Regions from separate parts of the Homo sapiens genome. Here region 2 is linked to region 1. Evidence: fine-mapped expression QTL. Tissue or cell type: whole blood. Region 1 holds a variant in brackets; the other region holds the start of a gene. All regions are shown on one strand. Distances are from middle to middle.

Evidence for each region. PIP is the estimated chance that this variant, and not a neighbour inherited with it, causes the effect.
Region 2: it holds the start of KLRB1, and the variant in region 1 is fine-mapped to the expression of KLRB1 in whole blood (TOPMed, PIP 0.91).

What each region holds. Positions count from the first base shown.
Region 1 is chr12:9,640,587-9,645,807 of GRCh38, forward strand. It overlaps the pseudogene LOC374443 and the pseudogene GOT2P3. Among named protein-coding and RNA genes, the nearest start is that of CLEC2D, 27 kb to the right of the region's middle. The variant C/T (reference allele first, on the strand shown) is at 2,076.
Region 2 is chr12:9,605,141-9,610,268 of GRCh38, forward strand. It overlaps KLRB1 (killer cell lectin like receptor B1), which reads right to left and starts at 2,776. Exons shown (of 6, transcript NM_002258.3): 1 at 2,615-2,776. The coding sequence starts at 2,699.

The DNA of each region.
Region 1 (5,221 bases):
TGATTATGTGCTAGATGCAGCCAAGGTTTGACTCCTTCCAACATAATTAAGGGAGTGTTTAGTTCCATGTGTCCCCAGGCCTTGCCAATTGTGAAGCCAGCAAATTGAAAAGTTCTCAAAAACCAAAAAAGCAGTTTATGACCTTAAAATATTTTGCCAACCTAGTATCTGACCTGCATAATTTAGTCCACCTATTTACATTTTTATGACATCTGCTTTTTACCAATAATCTTTAAGGCTGTTTTTATTTCTCCAAGATTAAAGTCACGTGAACTGAAAGGTACCACAGCTTTTTATCTTCTCTTTCATAAAATATTTGATCCAAGTGCTTGTCTTCCTTTAGGCAAAATTAATTAGAGCTCTTTTTTTTATGTAAACATCACACACACAACACATATAGAATTACACAGACAGGTAGAAGATAACCCGGTCCCCATAAGATCTTTCATTTGCCAATCTCCTAATTGGATTATTGGCCTCTGGGTGCTTTTAATTTCTGGAGTCCATGAGAAAAAAAAGAGGTCTCTCCTCTCTTGTGCGTGCATTAAAAAAGTGGCAAAGCAAAATGAAGAAAAAATAATTCAGTTGACCAAGAAAAACCTTTTCCCAGCAAAACAAGGTCCAAGAAAAGGGAAACCTTTTAAATATGACTCTAACTTGGATATCCACTTTTAGTTAAGCTGAGCACTCCTTAAGAAATTCCTCTTAACTCCCTTATTATCTGAATTTAGCCACACCAAGTGGCCAATATTTCTGGCTTTCAAACTTTACTAAAGGCTCAGAGAAAGGAAAATCCAAGGCAGTTCATGGAGAGAAATGGAATCAACAAATAGCAAAAGGTCATGCAGATATCAAACCAGGTAAGACTCATTCCCTAAGCCAGGATTGAATCCAAGCTACACAGAGGCTACACAAAACCTTGCCAAGTGGTTACAGGTCTTGCTCCCAAGGATGTTAAACAAGATGGAGGTCCTCAGCAAATTTGCTATGGACCATACAGAAAGACATGCAAAGCAGACCAGATTGGCTACAGCTTCAGATCAGCCTCACAAATCGTCTCTCGCAATTAAAACACTACAGAGAGCCCTCTGCTCAGTCCTGCAGCTGCCCACTGCCCTCCTACTGTCCACCGTGGCCCTGCTGCACTCTGGCTGCGTCCTCTCTGGGATCGCTGCCACCTTCCACCTGGGCCTCGCAGCTGCGGCCTCTGCCAGAGCCAGCTCCTGATGGACCCATGTGGAAATGGGACCTCCAGATATCATCCTGGCAGTCATTGAAGACTTTAAGAGGGACACCAATAGCAAAAAGATGAATCTGGGAGTTGGTGCCTACCGGGATGATAACGGAAAGCCTTGGACGTGCTGCCTAGCGTCCCCAAGGCAGAGGCCCAGATTGCCACAAAAAGTTTGGACAAGGAATACCTGTCCACTGGGGGACTGGCTGAATTTTGCAAGGCATCTGCAGAACTAGCCCTTGGTGAGAACAGCGAAGTCTTGAAAAGTGGCCGGTTTGTCATTGTGCAGACCATTTCTGGAACTGGAGCCTTAAGGATTGGAGCCAGCTTTCTGCAAAGATTTTTTAAGTTCAGCTGAGATGTCTTTCTGCCCAAACCAAGCTGGGGAAATCACACGCCCATCTTCAGGGACACTGGCATGCAGCTACAAGGTTATCGGCTTTATGACCCCAAGACTTGCGATTTTGACTTCACAGGCGCTGTGGAGGGCCTTTCAAAAATACCAGAGCAAAATGTTGTTCTTCTGCATGCCTGCACCCACAATCCCACGGGAGTGGACCCAGGTCTGGAACAGTGGAAGGATACAGCAACAATGGTGAAGAAGAAGAGTCTCTTTGCCTTCTTTGACATAGCCTACCAAGGCTTTACCAGTGGTGATGGTGATAAGGATGCCCGGGCTGTGCACCACTTCTTTGAACAGGGCATTAATGTTTGTCTCTGCCAATCATATGCCAAGAACATGGGCTTATATTGTGAGCGTGTAGGAGCCTTCACTGTAGTATGCAAAGATGCGATGAAACCAAAAGGGTAGAGTCACAGTTGAAGATCTTGATCCATTCCA[C/T]GTATGCCAACCGTCCCCACAATGGGGCCCAGATTGCTTCTACCATTCTGAACACCCCAGATTCATGAAAACAATGGTTGCAAGAAGTGAAAGGCATGGCCGACCACATCATTAGCATGCGGACTCAGCTTGTCTCCAACCTCAAGAAGAAGGGTTCCACCCACAACTGGCCACATAGCACTGCCCAAACTGGCATGTTTTGTTTCACAGGGCTAAAGCCTGAACAGGTGGAGTGGCTAACCAAGGAGTTCTCCATCTATATGACAAAGGACGGCCGCATTTCTGTGGCAGGGGTCACCTCCGGCAACGTGGGCTACCTTGCCCATGCCATTCACCAGGTCACCAAGTAATGTACCTGGTGCAAGGAAACAGAGACGACCTTTCTGTCTTCAGCCTCTGCTATTGGGAGCTTCACACAGAGGATGAGAGAGAGCGGATGGTGGTGAGTGGATCATTTTCTTCAACCACGGTGTGTAACACTCAGCAATTGAATGTTTCTCAGAAAAGAACGTGTAGTGACACAGGGCAGAGGGATCCGTGGCTGGCGTCTGGAACATTGTGGCTCTAAACCAAATGCTCCCCTGTCCTTTTATCCCCAACTTTTCTCAAAGAGTTTACATGTACAAGAAAGTCACCACACCAAAAAACCTGTCAATTATGCCATTGCAATATTTCAGAAGCTTTAACTGAAGTGTCATATAGTGTCAGGTTCCTCATGAGAAATAGCACACATTAGAGGCTTTGAGAGAAGACCTAGTTCTGTCATGAACACTTGGCCTCATGTCTGTCCTCCCATCATGGAGCAGCCTTATCAACAGACCACATTGCAGAAATTATGTTTTATGAAAACCAGTAAGTCTGCTGCCACTACAGCAAGGAAAGGAATGCAGTTTCCTGTCTTATTTAAGAAAAAGAGAAGGCTCTCTTTTCTCCTTTGCCATTGCTGTTCTTTTCCTTATGCACAAAGATTTTTAATGAATGCAGATTTTTATCTCATTCTACTGCCTGACTATCAACCCCATCCTATTGGGATTTATTTAAGAATAAACATAATTTTCTGCTGATGCCATACCCTCACTTTTCTCAGCAAAGAATAATGGAGAGTAGGTAACTGTACTTTATCTCAGCATCCTCTTGAATGATTTTGTAATCTTCTCTAGTTGTGATGTTGTCTCTGCCCAGTTGTACCTCCTCCTTTGTTGAATGTGGTTGTGCAGTCACTCATCTCACACCGTGAGTCCAGTGGCACAGGGTGGTACCAGGAAAGAGGATATTCTAGGCTTTGTGTGCTGCCAGTTGGGTTCAGGCTTCACCTCCTGGAAACCATGTAGACTTATTGCAGCCTACAGATTTGTGGAACTTCAAACTTGAGGGAGATGATTTAGGGTATCTGGCAGAAGAAACTTCTAAGCATTGAAGCAGTTAAGAGGTGACTTGGGTGCTGTTAAAATATTCAGTTTTAAAAGGGAAACAGAGGATAAAAGTTTAGAAAATGTTCAGCCTGATGATGTGATAGAAAAAAAACCATTTTCTGTTTCTCCACTGTGCACGAGATAAGTGGAATACCTCCTAGCATTCCATAGCACTGTAGGATTACTACAGTTAACAATAATATGTTATATTGTTTCAGAAAGCTAGAAAGAGGATATTAAATGTTTCCAACATAAAGAAATGATAAATGTTTGAGATGATAGATATGCTAATTACCCTAATAGAATTGTTGTACATCATATCTATCAAAACATCACTACATACTTTATGAATATGTAGTTACTATTTGTCAATTAAGAAACAAAATGGAAGAAAGGAAAAAAAAACTGTAACTAATCCCGTTTAAGTATGAAATTGTATTTCCTATATTAAATGCCTACACCCACACTGTGAATAAATTTTATTTATATTAATATGTAAAGTTGTAATGTGAGAAATGAGCTTACGAGGTTGCATTTATGACAAGATTCTGTTCACTGAAGAGAAAGAGTACCTCAAGTATTTCTATTTACCATTAAAAGTAGAACTGATTTCAAAGATCTATATTCAAGAGAACAGAGAAAGAAATTTTAAGATAATTTCTGCAAGTTAAGGTTATTTGTTTTTAAATCTTACCCCAAATAATGCAAATGATGCCGTGTTTTCAAATTTTATTTTCAGTAAATCATCAATAACTATTTCCAACAAGTTATCCTGTAAATTTCACAATTATTTGTTATTATTTTGCAAGAAGGTAATATGTGAATTTCAGATTTTTATGCACAGTTGGATTGTAGTTGAGAAAATAACCTTAAGATCCCAAACTTCTTAATGTTGTGACTCATACACACTCATGTCAGAAGTGACCCACCACTGAGTCTGATGGTACCACACTTGTCTATTTCCTGTCCAACAAGGTGGATTCACCCACTTGGTTATTAAGGAAATGTCAAATTGCTATATGAGTTTTTAAATGCTTACTCTCAATGTCTGTGATATGGTTTGGCTGTGTCACCACCCAAATCTCATCTTGAATTCCCATGTGTTGTGGGAGGCACCCAGTGAGAGGTAATTGCATCATGGGGCAGGTCTTTCCCGAGCTGTTCTTGTGATAGTGAGTAAGTCTCATGAGGTTTAATGTTTATTATAAGGGGAAATTTTCCTGCACAAGCTCTCTCTGCTTGCTGCCATCCATGTAAGACATGACTTGCTCCTCCTTGCCTTCTGCCATGATTGTGAGGCTTCCCCAGCCACATGGAACTGTAAGTCCAATTAAACCTCTTTATCTGTAAATTGCCCAGTCTTGGGTGTGTCTTTATCAGCAGCATGAAAACAGACTAATAAAGTCTGTGTTTACCTCACCATGGACTGATAACACATAGTTCATGAACTGCCACTGATCCATGATATACACTTTGAGTAATACCACTCTAAGGCAAAATAAGAGATAGATATATTGTAACTGCTATGATGATGATGTTAGCAGGGGAACTGGGGATGTTACTATAGGCAGATCTAAAAAATCCAATAAAGGTTTTTTCACTTCAATTTTAAAAACTCTACATTTTTTACTAGTAGGGCCTTTTATTAACATGCCACCATCTAGCACTTCACGTAATATATGACTCTCCACACAAATGTTTGCCATTTGTTTATTTAACTAGGTAATAATAAGG
Region 2 (5,128 bases), 35 kb before region 1:
TCCATGTCCCTACAAAGGACATGAAATCATCCTTTTTTATGGCTGCACAGTATTCCATGGTGTATATGTGCCACATTTTCTCAATCCAGTCTATCAATGATGGACATTTGGGTTGGTTCCAAGTCTTTGCTATTGTGAATGCTGCCGCAATAAACATACGTGTGCATGTGTCTTTATAGCAGCATGATTTATTATCCTTTGAGTATATACCCAGTAGTGGGATCACTGGGTCAAATGGTATTTCTAGCTCTAGATCCTTAAGGAATCGCCATACTGTCTTCCACAAGTGTGCCTCTATTTTACTATAAACTCTATGAAGGAAAATAATTTTCTCTATTTTGTTCACTGCTGTATTCACAGCATGCCTGGTGCAGAGTAGGAGCTTATTTTTTAATGAATGAATAAACTCTAGGGGCATTTTTGCAAACACCTTATCCACTTTTCTAACAGACCAAACCCTTGGCCATTTGGCCATAAGCAAGATCGGTTATCACTCACATCTCTCCTTCTGGTTTTGTTGACTGCCTTAGACACAATCACCGTGCTTGCTACAGAGTGACCACAGCCTCAGCAGTTTAGCCAGAGACCAATAGTGGTTTTACTGTCATTCAATATCAGACCAGTGTTCTATAGTCACATATTTTGCTCTGGCTTTATTCTACTCTTATTTTTTCTTCAGGTTTACTCTCAGAATGACATTTTATAGGATAATTATTACAATCCAAGTAGAAAAAATTTCTGCATCCATTGGTTTGGGATCATAGCAACATTTGGGAAGAGTCTCACTACCTCTATATTCATTTTCTGACAAAAGCCCACTTTCCACCTTTTGCTAGATATGAATAGAGGAAAAGAAAGACTTACTCTTTTCTTTAAAAAAAAATGTTACTCAACCAAATCCTCCCTATAGTTATTAGAACCCTCTGATTTCCTCTACTCTTATGTGAAAATTATACTGAAACTTAATTGACGGCTCTAAGACTTTCTTCTTGACTTAAAACTTTGAGAATTCAATAGTTTAAAACTTAAACAGTCTTAAAACAGCACAAGTCAAATGCTTGGCATGACATGGAATGAATATCAGATTGGTAAACAATTGTAATATTATCAATGATAGTAAATTCAGTTAGATATCAGAAAATAATAATGTGTCATAATAATTTCATGCTGATTTTCTGCCTCAGTTTCTAGTTTCTTCCCATCCATCCACAGGCCATGCTATCCATCATGTGTTACCTCACATTGGTGTTCCCCGCTTCTTTCACTCAGAATGCTAACTCTTCAGAGACACAGGAAAGTGCCAGTTTCAACAAATGGTAAGTAGGTTCGTTACTGATATGCTCGAGTATTTTTGTGGCTTGTCTCTTTCTAAGCTGTGATACTTTTCAAACTAGAAACTATCAGGTAGTAATGATATTCAAATCTTTGATCTTGAATATGATTTTTTTTCCAGAAAGTGTTCCCCTCTCTTGAGAGAGTGAAGTATGTTACTCATTAAGCCTACACTTTATATATATATATATAAAATATATAAAATATATGTATAAAAAGTATATATATATATATAAAATATATAAAATATATGTATAAAAAGTATATATATATATATATATATATATATTTTTTTTTTTTTTTTGAGATAGTCTTGCTGTGTCACCCAGGCTGGAGTACAGTGGCACAATTACAGCTCACTGCAGCCTTGATCTCTTGGGCTCAAGCAATCCTCTCACCTCAGCCTCCCGAGTAGCTAGGACCACAGGCACGTGCCCCACACTTGGCTATTTTTTTGTATTGTTTGTAGAGATGAGGTTTTGCCACATTGCCCAGGCTGGCCTTAAACTCCTGGACTCAAGCAAATCACCTTAGCCTACCAAAGTGTTGGGATTACAGGCATGAGCCACTGCAACTGGCCTACACGTTGTATTCTGAAAGGAATATTATGGATGAAAATGCACTGGGACTTAATCATAGTATTGATATTTTGTAGAGGAATTTGGAATAACGTAGGTTGTTATTACAGCAAGTTTGCAATGTGTCTTAAATATTCCTTAGTTCATACATGTAAAATATTTTTCCTTCCTTCCTTCCATCCTTCCTTCCTTCCTCCTTCTCTTTTTCTTTCTTTCCTTTCCTTTCTCTCTCTTTCTTTTTCTTTCTCTCCTTTCTTTCTTTCTTCTTTTCTTTCTCTTTCTTTCCTTTCTTTCTTTCTTTCTTCCTTTCTTTCTTTCTTTCTTTCTTTCTTTCTTTCTTTCTTTCTTTCTTTCTTTTCTTTCTTTCTTTCTTTCTTCCTTCTTTCCATCCCTGTAGAGCAGGGGTAACCAATAGGCAGTGTGCCCAGGGTAGCCTAAAGTGTTCAGAGTCTTTTAACCAAGGCTCAGTAAGACAAGTGATGTTTGCTTTTCATGCTAACTTGATTGAAAAAAATAAATGTATGAGGTTTAAATTTTTTTTCCCAAAGTTGTGATTATCTACAGGCAAGCCATGCAACACCCGTTAAACATTAATATAAAACTACTGCTCATCTTTAAAGCAATGATTTAAAGCCATAAATGTAACAGGAAGATCTAATTCTGGAAGACATACAAATGCCGAAAGGAAAATTAAAGCCACTTACCCCGAGGAAGAGATGAAGGTGAAGAACTTTCTGGGCCTGAGTCTGTGGGTAAGTTTAACTCAGCATATATTGCTTGTTGGTCCATGGCAGACAGAGGAAGGTGGCATTAAACTTGTGTGTAAGAACAAACTCTCAATTCTGTGAGGCAAAATCAGCAAAAGGAAGCTTTCTGCCTGCAGTACTTTGTTGTCTCTCTTTTGTCCCCACCCACATACACTTTTTGTTGGTGGTTATCTCCATAAATTACTGAGACAATCCACTGACTGCATGTTCATTATACCTAGCTATGTAATATCTACTTTCCTTAATTAACTGGCCTGTTGTTTGAGAAAATTCTGGGAGGCTCATTTGTTCTTGTTTTTCTAACCATCCCTTTTGTGTTCCTCTCTCAGGGCCAGGACCAGAGTGAAGCAAATGAGGCATAGCCTGGGGTTCCAATTTAAGGGGCCCCCAACAAAACTCACTAATTAACAGAAATAATATTTAGCACAATTTTGTAAAAGTAAAAATTAATGCAAAAAAGTCCATAATGCTATTCAAAGGCTCTAAAATCTTCCTGAAATATCTGTGCTCCAAAGAAAGTTGTGAAATGTGAAAAATGGAAACATAAATGTGAGAAAGCCCCCTGAATAACACAACAGAAAAAGCAATGTGCTAAAGATCAGTAGCCTACTGTTAGCTTAGCTCTAAAGGCACTCTTGGATATGATAGCATTTTCACATAAGTAAAAGTATTTGGAAACTGCCAGAATTGTAGGAAGTGGAGTATATGGAATTTTTTATCTCTTTGAAAGACTTTCTTTTTTTTTCAAGGTGATTATAGTATGTGTCTACTTTTTTTTTTTTACCTTTTTTTATTATTATTATACTTTAAGTTCACAATGTACAGGTTTGTTACATATGTATACATGTGCCATGTTGGTGTGCTGCACCCGTTAACTTGTCATTTACATTAGGTATATCTCCTAATGCTATCCCTCCCCCCTCCCCCCACCCCACGACAGGCCCCGGTGTGTGGTGTTCCCCTCCCTGTGTCCAAATATTCTCATTGTTCAATTCCAACCTATGAGTGAGAACATGCGGTGTTTGGTTTTCTGTCCTTGCAATAGTTTGCTCAGAATGATGGTTTCCAGCTTCATCCATGTCCCTACAAAGGACATGAACTCATCCTTTTTTATGGCTGCATACTATTCCATGGTGCATATGTGCCATATATTCTTAATCCAGTCTATCATTGATAGACATTTGGGATGGTTCACGAGTCTTTGCTATTGTGAATAGTGCCACAATAAACATATGTGTGCATGTGTCTTTATAGCAGCGTGATTTATAATCCTTTGGGTATATACCCAGTAATGAGATGGCTGGGTCAAATTCTAGTTCTAGTCCCTCGAGGAATCGCCACACTGTCTTCCACAATGGTTGAACTAGTTTAGAGTCCCACCAACAGTGTAAAAGTGTTCCTATTTCTCCACATCCTCTCCAGCACCTGTTTTTTCCTGACTTTTTAATGACTGTCATTCTAACTGGTGTGAGATGGTATCTCATTGTGGTTTAGATTTGCATTTCTCTGATGGCCAGTGATGATGAGCATTTTTTCATGTGTCTGTTGCCTGCATAAATGTTTTCTTTTGAGAAGTGTCTGTTCATATCCTTTGCCCATTTTTTGATGGGGTTGGTTGATTTTTTCTTGTAAATTTATGTAAGTTCTTTGTAGATTCTGGATATTAGCCGTTTGTCAGATGGGTAGATTGTAAAAATTTTCTCCCATTCTGTAGGTTGTCTGTTCACTCTGATGGTAGTTTCTTTTGCTGTGCAGAAGCTCTTTAATTTAGTTAGATCCCATTGGTCAATTTTGGCTTTTGTTGCCATTGTTATTGGTGTTTTAGTCATGAAGTCCTTCCCATGCCTGTTGCCTGAATGGTATTGCCTAGGTTTTCTTCTAGGGTTTTTATGGTTTTAGATCTAACATTTAAGTTTTTAATCCATCTTGAATTAATTTTTTATAAGGTGTAAGGAAGGGATCCAGTTTCAGCTTTCTATATATGGCTAGCCAGTTTTCCCAGCACCATTTATTAAATAGGGAATCCTTTCCCCATTTCTCGTTTTTGTCAGATTTGTCAAAGATCAGATGGTTGTAGATATGTGGTATTATTTCCGGGGGCTCTGTTCTGTTCCATTGGTCTATATCTCTGTTTTGGTACCAGTACCATGTTGTTTTGGTTGCTGTTGCCTTGGAGTATAGTTTGAAGTCAGGTAGCGTGATGCCTCCAGCTTTGTTCTTTTGACTTAGGTTTGTCTTGGCAATGTGGGACCTTTTTTGGTTCCATATGAACTTTAAAGTAGTTTTTTCCAATTCTGTGAAGAAAGTCATTGGTAGCTTGATGGGGATGGCATTGAATCTATAAATTACCTTGGGCAGTATGGCCATATTCACAATACTGATTCTTCCTATCCGTAAGCATAGAATGATCTTCCATTTATTTGTGTCCTCTTTTATTTCATTGAGCAGTGG